Homo sapiens: one gene and its partner. The protein of the gene in region 1 interacts with the protein of each later gene in a pairwise test. Each region holds a gene or a part of one and is shown on either strand. Other genes may lie near its edges.

Region 1 (7,746 bases):
CCAACTATATGTCCTTCACATGTGTTATTTCTTTTTCAACACAGCTTTATGGATATATACTTCACATATCATACAATTCACCTATTTAAAGCATACAATTGAATGGGTCTTAGTATGTTCACAGAGTTGTGCAACTGTTGCCACTATCAATTTTAGAACATTTTCATCGCATAAAAAAGAAACTCTGGGGCCGGGCACAGTGGCTCACGCCTGTAATCCCAGCACTTTGGGAGGCTGAGGCAGGCGGATCACCTGAGGTTGGGAGTTCGAGACCAGCGTGACCAACATGGAGAAACCCCATCTCTACTAAAAATACAAAATTAGCTGGGTGTGGTGGCGCATGCCTGTAATCCCAGCTACATGGGAGGCTGAGGCAGGAGAATAACTTGAACCCAGGAGGCAGAGGTTGCAGTGAGCCGAGATCGCACCATTGCACTCCAGCCTGGGCAACAAGAGCGAAACTCTGTAAGAAGAAAAGAAAAAGGCCAGGCACAGTGGCTCATGCCTGTAATCCCAGCACTTTGGGAGGCTGAGGTGGGCAGATTACCTGAGGTCAGGAATTCAAGACCAGCCTGGACAACATGGTGAAACCTCGTCTCTACAAAAATACAAAAATTCGTAGGGCATGATGGCGGATAGCATGTAATCCCAGCTACTCAGGAAGCTGAAGCGGAAGAATCGCTTGAACCTGGGGGGCAGAAGTTGCAGTGAGCTGAGATCATGCCATTGCACTCCAGCCTGGGCGACAGAGCGAGACTCCCTCTCAAAATAAAAGGAAACTCCATAACCACTAGTAGTCATTTCCCATTTCTCCTCCCCTCCCCTATGTCTATTCCACTTCTCTGCCCCAGGCAATCACTTATCTACCTTCTGTCTCTATATATTTGTATATTCTGAACACATTTTATATTCCTCTACATGTGTTATTTCTTTTCTTACACAACCCAGTGAGGTAGGTACCATTGCAATCTCCACTATACAGAAGTGGAAACTGAGTCACGAAGAGGTTAAGTACCCTGACCAAAGTTATATGGCTAGTAAGTAGCTCAGCCAGGCTTTATTTATTTATTTATTTGAGACAGAGTCTCACTCCATCACCCAGGCCAGAATGCAGTGGTGCAATCTTGGCTCGCTGTATCCTCTGCCTCCTGGGTTCAACTGATTCTCATGCCTCAGCCTGCCAAGTAGCTGGGACTACAGGCGTTCACCACCATGCCCGGCTAATTTTTCGTATTTTTGGTAGAGATGGGGTTTCATTATGTTGGCCAGTCTGGTGTCGAACTCCTGCCTTCAACTGATCCACCCACCCTGGCCTCCCAAAGTGCTGGGATTATAGGGGTGAGCCACCGCACCCGGCCTCAGCCAAGGTTTAAACCCAGAATTTAAATTCTAGGTGAATAGCTATGTTTTCTTTCCTGGGAATGCAAAATTTGATATTGATCTCTAGACAACGAATTAAGAAATAGATATAGCTTTGGCGATGTAATGATGTCATTCACTATGTGCAGAATTCATGCTTTTAATCCACTATGAAGGAGACAAAGGTCCTTAGAATCTAACATGATCATGATGTATAAGATACATGCAGAAATACTGATAGTAGATACCGCTCTATGCAGGAGACACAGCATCACACAGTTCAGGGGTGGAAGAGCACCTGGAAAGTATGAGCAATCAAGGATTTTTTTCTGTAGTAGTTAGCTTCTCAGTTGGCACTTAGAGAATGTGGCAGAAATTGCGAGCTGGGGTAATATGTGTTCCAGGTTAGGAAACAAAGGCCTAGAGGTAGGAATGAACAGGTTGTTTCTCCGATCCAGTGTGGCTTGAATGTAACATTCTCAGTCAGTGTATCACTTCCCATTTCGTGACATTAGCTACCGTTTATTTCTGTCTTTTAACGTCAAGCTCTTGACAGGTATTATTTCTAATCTTTAAGACAACCCTACAGGGTAGATATCATTAGCCTTGATATAGACAAGAAGATTGAGGTTCTTGAGGGGTCATAAGGCAAGTAAGTGATAGAGCCAAGATTTGAATAAGTGTCTTTCTGATGTCACATTCCTGCCCTTTCTACTTTATTGTGCTGTCTTACTTAAGGGAGATGGAAAGTTAGGTTGGTGCCATACTGAGAAAAGCCTTGATGGCTGAGGCGAAAAGTTTTTACTTACCTTGGCAGGTAGAGACATGATAGAGACAAAACTCAAGCTGAACTGTGGAAATACTACTATAATCATTTGGGCAGTAGAAATGACAGTCTAAATTAGGAAGGCAGTGGTGCAATCAGACAAAAGGGAAGTACATATAAGAAATATGCATCAGTGGTATTTAGAGACTTCATAACTGGGTGGGAGCAAGGCGTACAGAGGAGTATATAATATTTCTGAAACTTTGGTTCTCTTAGTTCTCAGAAGAGTGTTCTGTGACGGCCATGAACAGAAATACAGAGGAAACGAGGAGGAGCTGGCTTTGTGAGACTGAGGGAGGAAAAATGATAACCTTAATATGGGAGCTGAAGGTGCTGGTGACTTCTGTATCTATGTGAAGATGGGTAACGGGTAATTGGAGATTTAGTCTAGGGCCAAGATCCAGTTATCCAAAGAGTGGTGAGAGTCAAGGCCACAGTAATCAACAAAGAATATAAAGAAAAATGCAATCTTAGTGTCTACTAAAAAGTAGGAGAAACAAGGGAGCCATATTGAATACCTATTACCGGCCTAACACTGCGGAGACGTCTGGGAAGGGCCACAAACCTTTCCACAGTAAACCTCCAATCTTGTTCCAGAGATTAATTACTCTCATGAAACTATATGCAACTAGTACAAAACTTGATAGATTCAGGGCCAATCTGTAGGGTAAACACAAGAGTAACGGGATATTAGAAAAGAAAGACATTGATGTGCTTGGGGAATTTAGGAGGCGAGGAGAAGACAGACCAACACAAGGTATAAGAAGTAGAAATTGTGCATAGGCTGATACCAGGGTAACCCTGCTCTGAGCACAGTGACAGAACTTTGGTGTCTTCTCTGTTGTCAAGGGGATAGCATGGGGCTGAAAAAGTATAAACAGGCTTTGGGGCAAAGCAGATCCCAAAGCTTACAGCTCCCTTTTATTGATGGTATAAAATTGGGCAAATTACTTAGCTTTTTCAGTACTTGTTTCTTTTTCTTTCTTTCTTTCTTTTTTTTTATTTTTTTGAGATGGAGTCTCACTCTGTTGCCCAGGCTGGAGTGCAGTGGTGCGATCCCGGCTCACTGCAACCTCCGCCTCGCAGGTTCAAGCGATACTCCTGCCTCCGCCTCCCGAGTAGCTGGGATTACAGGCACCCGCCACCACGCCCGGCTAATTTTTGTATTTTTAGTAGAGACGGGGTTTCACCATCTTGGCCAGGCTGGTCTTGTACTCCTGACCTCGTGATCCACCCGCCTCGGCCCCGCAAAGTGCTGAGATTACAGGCGTGAGCCACTGTGACCGGCCAGTACGTGTTTCTTCGTTTTAAAAAAGTGAGTATATTTAATAAGGTGGTTGTTTACATTCAGTAAAATAGCGCATGAAAAGCATCTAACACAGGGCTTTAAACAGCAAGACTGGGCAAAACCTAAATAACATTTTCCTTATGTTGTCTTTTTTGCTACCACTTGCACCATACGATTACCCACATTTCCTGTCCCCTCCAGTGCAGCTTCCTGGAGACACTTCACACGTATGCAGGACTTCTGTACATCCTACTCAGGCACAGCTGTAGGCCCTACAAAGAGGGACCATTTACTGCCTCCTGCTGTCATTGATATTCGACAAACATTTATTGAGCACCTACAATGTCCTAGTTACTGTGCTAGGCCATTTTGGGGTATAGAGAGATAAAACAGATCTTAAAGTCTTCACGACACTTAAAGATGAGAAACAGTCTCTGGGTAAATAACTATCGGAGTTCAGAAGGTGGACAGAAGTGGTGGGCGGCGAGTCTGTGTGCAGTGAGCACCTAGCGGAAGATGGCATTATTTGCAGAAGAGAGGTCCTTTAAGCCAAGTCTTGATAGATGATTTCACCACGCGGAGATTGGGAAACGAGGACAAAGATATGAGAAGATATGTTGGCCACAGAGAGCCTCTCAAAGCACTGTTAAAGCAAAGCCAATACTTAATGGGAGGAAACTCCGTTTTACTTGCGTGGAGTCTTAAGTCATTAGATGCATGCTAAACAGAACTGTAACCCTCGCGAATAAAACGGCCACAGTGACAGCAGTGGGTAACGGCAGAGCTGCAACTACTCTGACAGGGGTGACGACTTATTTGGACGACAGTTGGTGAAACATTGTAAACTCTCAGAAGCTGCCGTTTCCAGACTTTGAGTTCATTCTTGTCGAATCCCCAGCTTGTTTTCTCAGCCCGGGGTGAAATGCGCAGCCAAAAGGCCCAATGAGCGTCAAAGCGAAAGGGCAGGGGTGGTCTCTTCTGCGGATATACCTTGGCTCCTCCCAAGTCCTACGAGTTTAAACTTCGACGCACCAAACATGGCTTCTTCGCGGTTCTGCTCCTTGTTTTATTTCGCTCCCACCTTTCGGCCACACTCAACATGGCCCTAACCGAAGGTTGGCATGCCTGTGGCACTGTCTCGGGACAGTTCTCGCGAGGTTTGCCTGGGCCCGACTGCTCCCGCCCTGCCTCGCGCCGCCGCCACAGCCGCTGCCGCTGGCGCCGCTCCTCCTCCGTGTCAGTTGTTGGGCTGTAATGGCGACTGGGCCGCCCCTGACGAAGTGACTCCCGGGCCGGGGAGCGGGGCCAGACCTGCGCCAGAGAGAACTGCAGGGAGCCGCAGCTCGGGGGGTGGCTTGCCCTGAGGGAGGGGAGGCAGCCTTTCCGCCTTGTCTTCCTTCCCAGCGGACCGGCGGATCCCCGGAGCCGGTGCGAGGAGGGCACCCGGTGCGTCCCCGGAGCGGGGAGGCCAGGCCGGGCAGCCCTGGGGCCGGTCGGGGCGGCGTCACTGCACCCTCCGCCAGGCTCCGCGGGATGCACCGTGGTAGCCGAGGGCGGAGGCGACACTCTCAGGTGAGCTCCTGTAGGACCTGGCTGGGACCGCGGAGTCTCGCTCAGCCTCAACTGTCTCTGTCCGCGGTCCCGGGTCCCCGGTGGCGGCAAGAGAGGCGGGGCCGGGCGCGGAGAGTCTTGGCCCTGCTTGGCGTCCCCCTCGGGGAACCTCCCTGGGTTCTGAGGCTTTTCGGGGACCTAGGTTTCGGGTCCCACCAGTGCCTGCTGAAGACGGAATTTCCTTCCTTACGTGCCAGTGTCCTCCCGCCTCCTCCACCCCTCCTCTAGCCTGCAGAGGTAAGATACCTCTAGCCTTTGCTGCCCGGAGAAGTGTCCCTTCTTCATCTGGCGATCAGGCGTATTTGGGGAGATTCCGGGGACTGGCTCCAGTGGCAGGGATGATCAGTTTCTGTTCCTTTTCAGTGGGGATCACATTCTCAAGTATAGGGAAAACTTTGATCTACTCTAGTCTAGCGGCTGCTGAAGGTAGTTTATTCACAGATAATTTGGGGAAAGATTTAAAAGGCTTTATGTTTTGGAAGTTGTCAGTATTTTCCTCTGCCTTTTAAATGCAGCTCAACATGCTAAGTAATATTTAGCTAATGTCACAAGATATGAATTGGAATTTGCCTGGATTTTAAATATTCAGATAGAAAGTTGCACATAGGCATAGATTTTAATGTTTTAATGCAGTAGCAAATCCTTCATATGGGAAAAAACAGGTTGTCAGAAATAGTGATCAATATCCATGTACTCCACCTGATTGTTTTGTTTTGATGGTGATCCTTGTTTTGAATTTGGGGAAGTCGTTATTGTTGCCATGTTAACGATACCTCCTGCCCTGTATTTGAAGAGTTTTAAAAGAAAGACTATCTTTGGCAGAGCTAGTAACAATCTGAAAAGTTCTGTAGAAACAATGATAAAATACTAAAAGTTGCCCTCCATTCTGAAAATTTCTTCGTTTAATATATTGTTTTTAAACAAGGAAATGCACTGCTAATGACATGGAATTGTGACTTTGAGGGATTGTTAGACCCATGCTGGAAGTTGCTTCAAAGCCATGGGCGTATAATAATTAGTTTCGGTGTGCTAAATTGACAAATTTTATTTAATGTAATGAAATAAATCTGAATCATTTGAACTGTCAGTGCATTAAATTTAAGATACTGTAATCTGAAAATAAACTTCAAGCTAGAATACATTGTATATGTGGATAAATACATGTGTATCTCTGTATCTCTTCATCCTCAGTAGCAAAATTTTGTGTATGTAGAGATGGCAAGTTGTATATGTAAAAAATTTCATACGTATGTGAACATATTTCTTTGATTTTCTGAGATAAATTGGTGTGTGTGTCATGTAAGAGCGTTAATACTTAAACAGCCAACCTTCTGTGGGGCAATCAATTTATGAATTATAAAGTTTTTGGATTTTTTCCTTCTGCTTCTGATTGTCAGTCTTTTGCCCATTTTATAACACTTCTACCATATATGAGCAGAAGAAAGGAGATGAAGTACTGCTATAATCAATTTTATTTGTTAAATTGCTATAATTTATAGTGGGAGCAAAAAAGAAGTCTAAAATAACTGACATCAGTTTTTGGTGTGCTTCTATATACATTATTTTATTTAGTTTTCACAGTGATCTTGTGAAGTAGGTATGGCAGATATCCTTATTTTGCAGTCGTGGAAACTGACACACAAGGAAGATCATTTATGTGAATGCCTCTCATTTCTGCAGATAATGTGGAATTATTTTTATTTTAAACTAAATATTAATATAGGTGCTCTGGCATTTGGTGTTATTTTAAAATATTAAAAAATTATTCTATTTTTGTTCCTTTTTACATGCCACTTGCCCCTTATGCTGATGATCGTCAGTTCTTTAAAAACATTAGTATTTTTATAACGTTTTGTTAATTATTGACAAGTCATGAATTATGATGGATCACTTACTTCTTTATGTATATACTTTTTGCTTGAACAAGATTATTAAAGTGTAGTTCATTTATTATCTTTCACTTTGGATACTCAGTTCTGTCATCTTTATTCTTTCAGTCATTTATACTCTTAGTTATGTAAAACAAACATTCAAGCCACATGATCAGTAACATAACTGAAAAGTAGTAATATCTTGATGATTTTATTGTTGAGACAACTGATGATTTAAAAAGTTAATTCTCTGCATATAATTGTGATTGTTATTTTTGCAACATGAGGCAAATTTTAGTGTTATAGTGTAAAAAAATCATCAGATTGCATAGTATTTTTTTCTGTATTGATTTGTTGTTGTTGTTGTTCATTGTTATCATAAGTGTGATTTTACATTTACTTGTGGTTATTTTGAGTTATTCTTTGCCTTTCTCATCTGGTCTGTAAGTTCCATGATGGCAGAGATCCTTTAATCACTATTATGCACCCAGTGCCTAGCATATGGTAACATAGTCAATAAATACTAATTGAAGAAATTGACTAAAGAATAGTCCCAGAATAATATTTTAAATGCAAAACAAAACAAAAGACTAGTTCTTAGTTCCTAAGCACACCTCAACTCTTGGGAATATATTCCAGAGATATGCTCAGATTTGCTGGGTAGCAAGGGAATGACAGCCTGGGATTAAAAAGCCACTGGGAATAAGCCACAGTGGAAACTTCATTTACTATTTTAATGATTTGCCTAGGTGCTCTGGCAACAGGTTACGGTAATTTAAAGAAAATATAAA
Region 2 (7,274 bases), on another chromosome or scaffold:
ACTTTAGGAACCTGAATGGATTAAGACAAACCTGATTATGCCACTCCGAGATTTGAGGTAACATTTGAATCTAAAAGAGGCTATATGAAAGAGGTTATAATAAAAATGATTTTTGACTAAAAAATTGTTGGCCTAAGATAATTCAGTAGCAGGGCTGAATAATGGGATGACTCAAAATCAGTAAGCTCAAAGGCAATTTCAAAGAAATCTTTATGTTTAGCAAGAAGACCAAGATGACAAGATGCGCCAGGAGACTTGGCCAGAGGACCTCCAGGCTGACAAAGTTTCCCCGAGGAAGTCAGATTGGAAAAGTGTCCTCAGGTTCAAGGAAACCTGGGTGTGCACCGGGTGAATGAGAGTGGCAGACAGAAGGAAACAGCAAGGCCTCTGAGGTAGGAGGGACAGCGTTTTTGAATGTGAAATTTATTCCCTGATACATGTTTTTAAAAATGAATCTTGCTGCCCTTAGAAAATGAACCCCCGAACAAGGTAAGGTCGAGCTGGCCCCTCGTGTCATCCGACTTTGCGTTGTGGCCCTGCCTGCAGAAACGTGTGCTCTGCTACAGCCCTGGGAGGAGGGGCCGGGCTCCCAACTCCTGCCCCGCTTCTAGCACATGCTGTGCTTGGCCACTTCTCTGCCTCTTAGTTTAACAGCAGCACTGGGCAAGGTTTGCCCTCTGCACACCAGACCGGCTTCCCAAGAACCGGGGAAGAGGAGAGGGCATGCCTGGGGCCTGAGCTTAGTGGGCCGGGTGGAGGCAGGAGGTACTGCATGGAGGAGCGTGGACAGTGGCATGCAGGAGGCCAGTCATTCTGCGGTTTTAGCTGGAGGTTTGTTTTTGGTAGTTTGTAGAATCATCAGATTTGATGATGAAACTTTTTTTCCATAAATGTTAAATTTTCAGACACTTGTATTTTTTTTTTCCTTTTTTTTTTTTGAGACTGAGTCACTGTCGCCCAGGCTGGAGTGCAGTGGTACTAGCTCGGCTCACTGCAACCTCTGCCTCCCAGGTTCAAGCGATTCTCCTGCCTCAGCCTCCTGAGTAGCTGGGATTACAGATGTGTTTCACCATGCCCGGCGAATTTTTTTTGTATTTTTAGTAGACACGGGATCTCACCGTGTTGGCCAGGCTGGTCTTGAACTCCTGACCTATGGTGATCCGCACCCCTCCCCGCCCCCCCCGCGGCCCAGCCTCCCAAAGTGCTGGGATTACAGGCATGAGCCACTGTACCCAGCCCTGTATTTTCTTTAAAAACCAATTTTGGGCCGGGCACGGTGGCTCACGCCTGTAATCCCAGCACTTTGGGAGGCCGAGGCAGGCGGATCACGAGGTCAGGAGATCGAGACCATCCTGGCTAACATGGTGAAAACCCATCTCTACTAAAAATACAGAAAAAAAATGAGCTGGGTGCGATGGTGGGTGCCTGCAGTCCCAGCTACTCGGGAGGCTGAGGCAGGAGAATGGCGTGAACCCAGGAGGCGGAGCTTGCAGTGAGCCCAGATCACGCCCCTGCACTCCAGCCTGGGTGACAGAGCGAGACTCCGTCTCAAAAACAACAACAACAACGAAAAAACGATTTTGGCATGTTTTGTAAGTTGCCAGACTATTGGATATACCTCTTAATCATACTTTGTTTGAAATCCTTTGTGGTTTCTAAAGCACTAGTAGCTTTCTGAAAGGAAAATTTTTAATGAATGAAGCATGCTTCATCCTGCACATCCCCTCCTGCCCCAGCACCCCTACTGCCCATGCGCCTCTCCTGCCCCAGCACCCCTACTGCCCCAGTGCCAGGCCTTTTCTAGCAGCTCTCATGGGTTCATCCCTGCTGCGGGCATTGCTCCACCAAGGGGCAGTGCTCTCCCTGCCGGTAAGTGTTGGAACTTCACGTTTCCCTCTAGTTTTCTCTTTACATTTTAACATACACTATTATGTGTCAATATATTAATTATATATTAATTACATTTATAGAGGTTAGGTATATATGGCAGATCATATCTGAGCGTGAATTACATTCTCCAATATTTTTATTTGTCATGATTTATTGCAGGGTTCACTTATTTGATCTACCCCAACTTAACACACATTTCCAAGAAAATATCCATCACACTAGAAAGAAAGAAAGAGGAAGGAAGGAAGGGAGGGAGGGAGAGAAGGAGAAAGGAAGAAAGGGAAGGAAAATGGAATGGAGGAAGGGAAAAATGGAAGGAGGAAGGAAGGAAGGGAAAGAATGAAGAAAGCCATTTGTTCCTGCAAACCTAAACCTCTTTGTAGTAAGTTCTGGCAGAAGGTGTGTTTCTGGAGTTAAACTACAGGCTTGGAAATGGAATTTCTTAGCCTAATTTCTAAATTAGAACTGCTTATGCAAATTAACACTCCGTACATTTCAACAAGCAGTTGGCTGATTTCTTCTGTCCACTCCACCTGCAGATGCAGAGGTGGCCCCATCCTGTGATGTGCCACCACATCCCTTTTCAGTGAAGGGCTTTGTTGGCTGCTGTGGGCATTCTCATGGCCTCTCCAGGGATGGCCTCCACTGTAGAGACCTATGTCACCAAGGCCAGGCCCTCTCAGGGGGCTCCATCCAACGACCATTCTGCCTCAGGGTAAGAGGCCCGGCCCTCTCAGCCTGAGTCCATTCTGGCTCCAGAGCTCCCTGAGAGCTTGCCTGGCAAGTTACTCTTGCAATTCTAGCTTCCAGCAGGCGTTGATTTCTGGGGCACTTTTGATAAACTCCTGGCAGGAAACTCAATCTCTGGGGGTCAGAGTCCACTTCCTGGGGAGCCCAATCTGTGACCCCTAGGAGTGGGGACCATGGAAGCACTTGGCTCTCCAGCATGTGCTGAATAGGGGGCGCTGCCTGCAATGTCCACGTGGAAACCTGGCTGGGAGAATGCCTGTGTGCTCTGCATGGGGATGTAAAGGTGTGAGCAAACCTTCTTCAGAGAGGGGATGTTCAATGCGAAATTTGAACATTGGGACCTGAAAAACTGATGGGCTGATGGGGTCTGCCCATGATTGGCAGCCTTCATAGAATCACGAGGGAGGAGCACAGGCCACCCTAGACAGGAGGGGTCCCCTACTGACAGGGAGGTGCTGTCGGGGCAGCAGGCACGTGCAGGAAAACGGAAAAGCAGAGTAATTGAATGTAAATCATGCAACTCCACTACAGTGGCTAGAAGCCTGGATGGGCAACTTGGCTGAGTGATGTTGGGCAAGTTATTTAATATCAGTATTCTCAGTTTTCTCATCTGTAAAGGGGATTAAATACTTCCTTCCCTTACAGGGCTGCCCTGGTCTTAAGTAATGCCCACAGAGAGCTTAGCATTGTTCTTGGCAAGTCACTAGTACTCAGTAAATACTATTTTTATTAAGAAGGTAAGATTCACAGGACTTAGTGTCTTAACTAGATGTTGAGAGTAAGGAGAAGAGAGAATACTTCTCGGATGATTGTTCAGTTTCTGATGAATGTCTGTTCCCCTTTCAAAACCTAATTCAGATGTCACTTCCTCCTCAAAGCTCTCGCCCCGCGCCGAGCTACTGTGATGTATTTTTATGACCTGGCAGCTTTTTTCTCATATCCCTGTTAGCGGTATGTGGTAAGAACATGAGACACAGAATCAGAAACCATGGATTTCTGGTCTTGACTCCACTACCACTCAGAGGAACCTCACGGTGGATGCCGTAAGTGTTTACACTGAAAAGGATTTTCACGAAAACCTGCATTTTCATTTCGTTCACAAGAGAATTATGAGACTAGAAAAACAACAATTCTTAGTATACCACAGACTGTGGTGCCTAGGAATAACAGACAAGCTTTAACTCACACGATGAGCATCTTTATTTAGCTCTGCTTTTAGATATCTGCATGATAAAGATGAGTGATCCAACGTTAGAAATCATCTGGACATTAAAACTGAATTGTAGGCAGGCGTGGTGGCTCACACCTGTAATCCCAGCACTTACGGAGACCAAGGCGGGCAGATTGCTTGAGCTCAGGAGTTTGTGAGACTAGCCTGGGCAACATAGTAAGACCCCTATCTCTACAAAAAATATAAAAATTAGCTAGGCATCATGGCCTGTGCCTGTAGTCCTAGCTATTGAGGAAACTGATGCAGGAGGATCATTTGAGCTCAGGAGTTTGAGACCATTCTGGGCAATACGGTGAAACCCTGTCTCTACAAAAAAATGCAAAGATTAGCTAGGCATGATGGCACATGCCTGTGGTCCCAGCTACTCGGGAGGCTGAGGCAGGAGGATTGCAGGAGGTTTGCTTGAGCCGGGGAGGTCGAGTCTGCAGTGAACTGAGATTGCATCACTGCACTACAGCCTGGGTGACAGAGTAAGACCCTATCTCAAAAAAAAGAACTAATTGTAACAAACTATCTTTCAAATTATATCAAAACAGTGATTCATAAATTCCATGTTGCCCAGAGATCATGAGGAGCTCTTCTATGATTTGACAGTGCAATTACTGAAGGGGAAGACACCATGCAAATACATGGTAAAAATATTCAAATTATTACTGATTTGACACAAAATATTGATGTAAATAACATAAAACTGTAATATGCCATTATGATGACATTAATGAAAAATTGGTTAATGAATGTCATTGAAAGAGCATGTACATCACTAAATGTTCTTAGTCACTGAAAGTGTGAAATAGCCTCTAAACTCATATGTGGAAAAAGAACTTGAAAAAGGTTTCCAGAAATGTGACAATTCTAGTACTTTCATGACATTTTAAAAAAGGGATTGTAAAGACTGATGAAACCCTTAAAACCTCTCAAGAATTAAAAATCATTTTTGATCAACAGAGTAAACTGATTTTTTATCTCTGTTGAAAGATATTTTTAAAATCATTGTCCTATGGAAAAGTCATATAGAACGTTTGCTGTTTAATGTAGCACAGATGTATCAAAAAGCCATGCCAGGCAGTTATAGATATCTTAGTTTTCTGGATTTTGTGACGTTTGTGGTATTTGTCAGATTTTTAAAATTTGTGATTTGTTGGGATTTGTTCCTCATTCACAGGTAATTTTATATACTTTTGTATTCACTTTCGAAAAGAAGGCAACTCTAAATTTTATGAACTTCAAGTGCTATAAAACAATTACCACAGTAAATTTTGAAAAATTCACCCCAAAAAGAAACCTTGTATCCATTGGCAGTAACTCCCTATGCTCCGCCATTCCTCTCAGCTCCCTGTCTGGCAACCACTTCCTGTCTCTTCAGAGTTGCCTCTTCTGGACATTACATATAAACGGAATTATACACTATGTGGCCTTTTATGACTGGCTTCTTTCACTTAGCATAATGTTTTCAAGAGTCATCTGTGTTGTAGCATTTGTCAGTACTTCATTTATTTTTGTTTCCTAACAATACTCCATTGTAGGGATTGACCACACTTTATCCATTCATTGGTTGATGGACATTTGGGTTGTTTCCACTTTTTCTGCTGTTGTGAATAACAGTGCTAAGCACATTCATATGCAGTGTTTGTGTAGATATATAATATGCTTTATTTTCTCTTGAGTACATAAAAGTGGAGCCTCTGAGTAATATAATAACTCTATGTTTGGTGTTTTGAAGAATTGCTAAATTGTTTTCCAAAGCAGCTGCACCATTTTATATCCCTACCAGCAATGCATGAAGCTTCCAGTTTCTCCACATCATCACGAATACTCCTTATTCTCTCTCTTTTTAGATATAGACATTCTGGCAGGTGTGACATTGTATCTCTTGTGGTTTAGATTTGCATTTGGAGCATGTCTTATGTGCACTTAAAAATATTAATATCTATTCTGCTGTTGTTGGGTAAACTGTTCTATAGATGTTGATATGGCTTCGCTGTGTCCCCACTCAAAATCTCATCTTGACTTGTAATCCCCATAATCTCCATGTGTCAAGGGTGGGACCAGGTGGAGGTAATTGGATCATGAGGGTGGTTTTCCCTACTCTGTTTTCATGATAGTGAGTCTCACAAGGTCTGATGGTTTTATAAGCATCTGGCATTTCCCCTGCTTGCACTCAGGCTGTCCTGCCACACTGTGAAGAAGGTGCCTTGCTTCTCCTTTGCCTTCTGCCATGAGTGTAAGTTTCATGAGGCCTCCCCAGCCATGCTGAACTGTGAGTCAATTAAACCTCTTTCCTTTATAAATTACCAAGCTGCGGCTATTTCTTCATAGCAGTGTGAGAACGGACTAATACAGGTGTTTTTTAGGTCTTGTTATTGTGTCGTTCACGTCTTTTATTTCCTTGTTGATCTTACTCTTAGTTGTTCTATCCATCATTGAAAATGGGGCATTGGCCAGGCGTGGTGGCTCACGCCTGTAATCCCAGCACTTTGGGAGGCCAAGACCAGCAGATCACTTGAGGTCAGGGGTTCGAGACCAGCGTGGCTAACATGGAGAACTCCTGTCTCTACTAAAAATACAAAAATTAGTCAGGTGTGGCAGTGCGTGCCCGCCTATAGTCCCATCTACTTGGGAGGCTGAGGCAGGGGAATTGCTTGAACCCTGGAGTCAGAGTTTGCAGTGAGCTGAGATCATGCCACTGCGCTCCAGTCTGGGTGACAGAGTGAGACTCAAAAAAGAAAAAAAAAAAAAAAAAAAAAAAGAAAGAAAATGAGACATTGGATTTGTAAGTTTCTGACAGGTTCATTTTGCCTGCTGCCCAGATAGAGCCGATTTATGAGGACAGGGAAATTGCAATAGAGAAAGAGTTTAATACATGTAGAACTGGCTAAACAAGAGACTGGAGTTTTATTATTACTCAAATCAGCCTCCACAAAAATTTGGAGGCTAGGTCTTTTCAAAGATAGTTTGGTGGGCAGGGGTTTGTGTACTAAGAAACTAAATGTTTCTTGTGTACTAAGTCAGCTTCTGGGTGGGGGCCAGAGGACCAGTTGAGCCAAGAATTCAAGAGGTACAGGTTCAAGTAGGGCCATCTGGTTGTCAGAAATGCAAAAGCCTGGAAAGTCATCTCAAATGTTAGGTTCTACAATAGTCAAGTTATTTATAGTAATTGGGAAAGTTGCAAATCTTGTGACCTCTGTAGAAAATAGGTGGTAATCTTTACACCTATATCTTAGTAGAATTCAGGCCCCTCACTTCCTCCTAACCTGGTAGCCTTTCATTAGTTTTACAAAGGCAGTTTAATTTTGGGGGGCAGGGCTATTATCATCTAAACTATAAACTATAATCGTTTGTCCCAAAGTTAGCTTGGCCCATGCCCAGGAATGACCAAGGGCAATTTGGAGATTAAAGTCAA

What was found. Proteins that work in one complex are often made in the same cells at the same time.
Region 2: the proteins of CEP350 (region 1) and CEP43 interact in a two-hybrid assay, tested with the Homo sapiens proteins (one study listed by BioGRID).

Annotation. Positions count from the first base shown.
Region 1 is NC_000001.11:179,950,098-179,957,843, forward strand, and holds the start of CEP350 (centrosome-associated protein 350), read left to right. Parts: upstream 1-4,712; 5' UTR 4,713-5,006; coding exon of another isoform or gene 5,007-5,045; intron 5,046-5,124; exon of another isoform or gene 5,125-5,321; intron 5,322-7,746. UniProt on the Homo sapiens protein: Plays an essential role in centriole growth by stabilizing a procentriolar seed composed of at least, SASS6 and CPAP. Required for anchoring microtubules to the centrosomes and for the integrity of the microtubule network.
Region 2 is NC_000006.12:167,044,185-167,051,458, forward strand, and holds part of CEP43 (centrosomal protein 43), read left to right. Parts: 3' UTR 1-7,274. UniProt on the Homo sapiens protein: Required for anchoring microtubules to the centrosomes. Required for ciliation.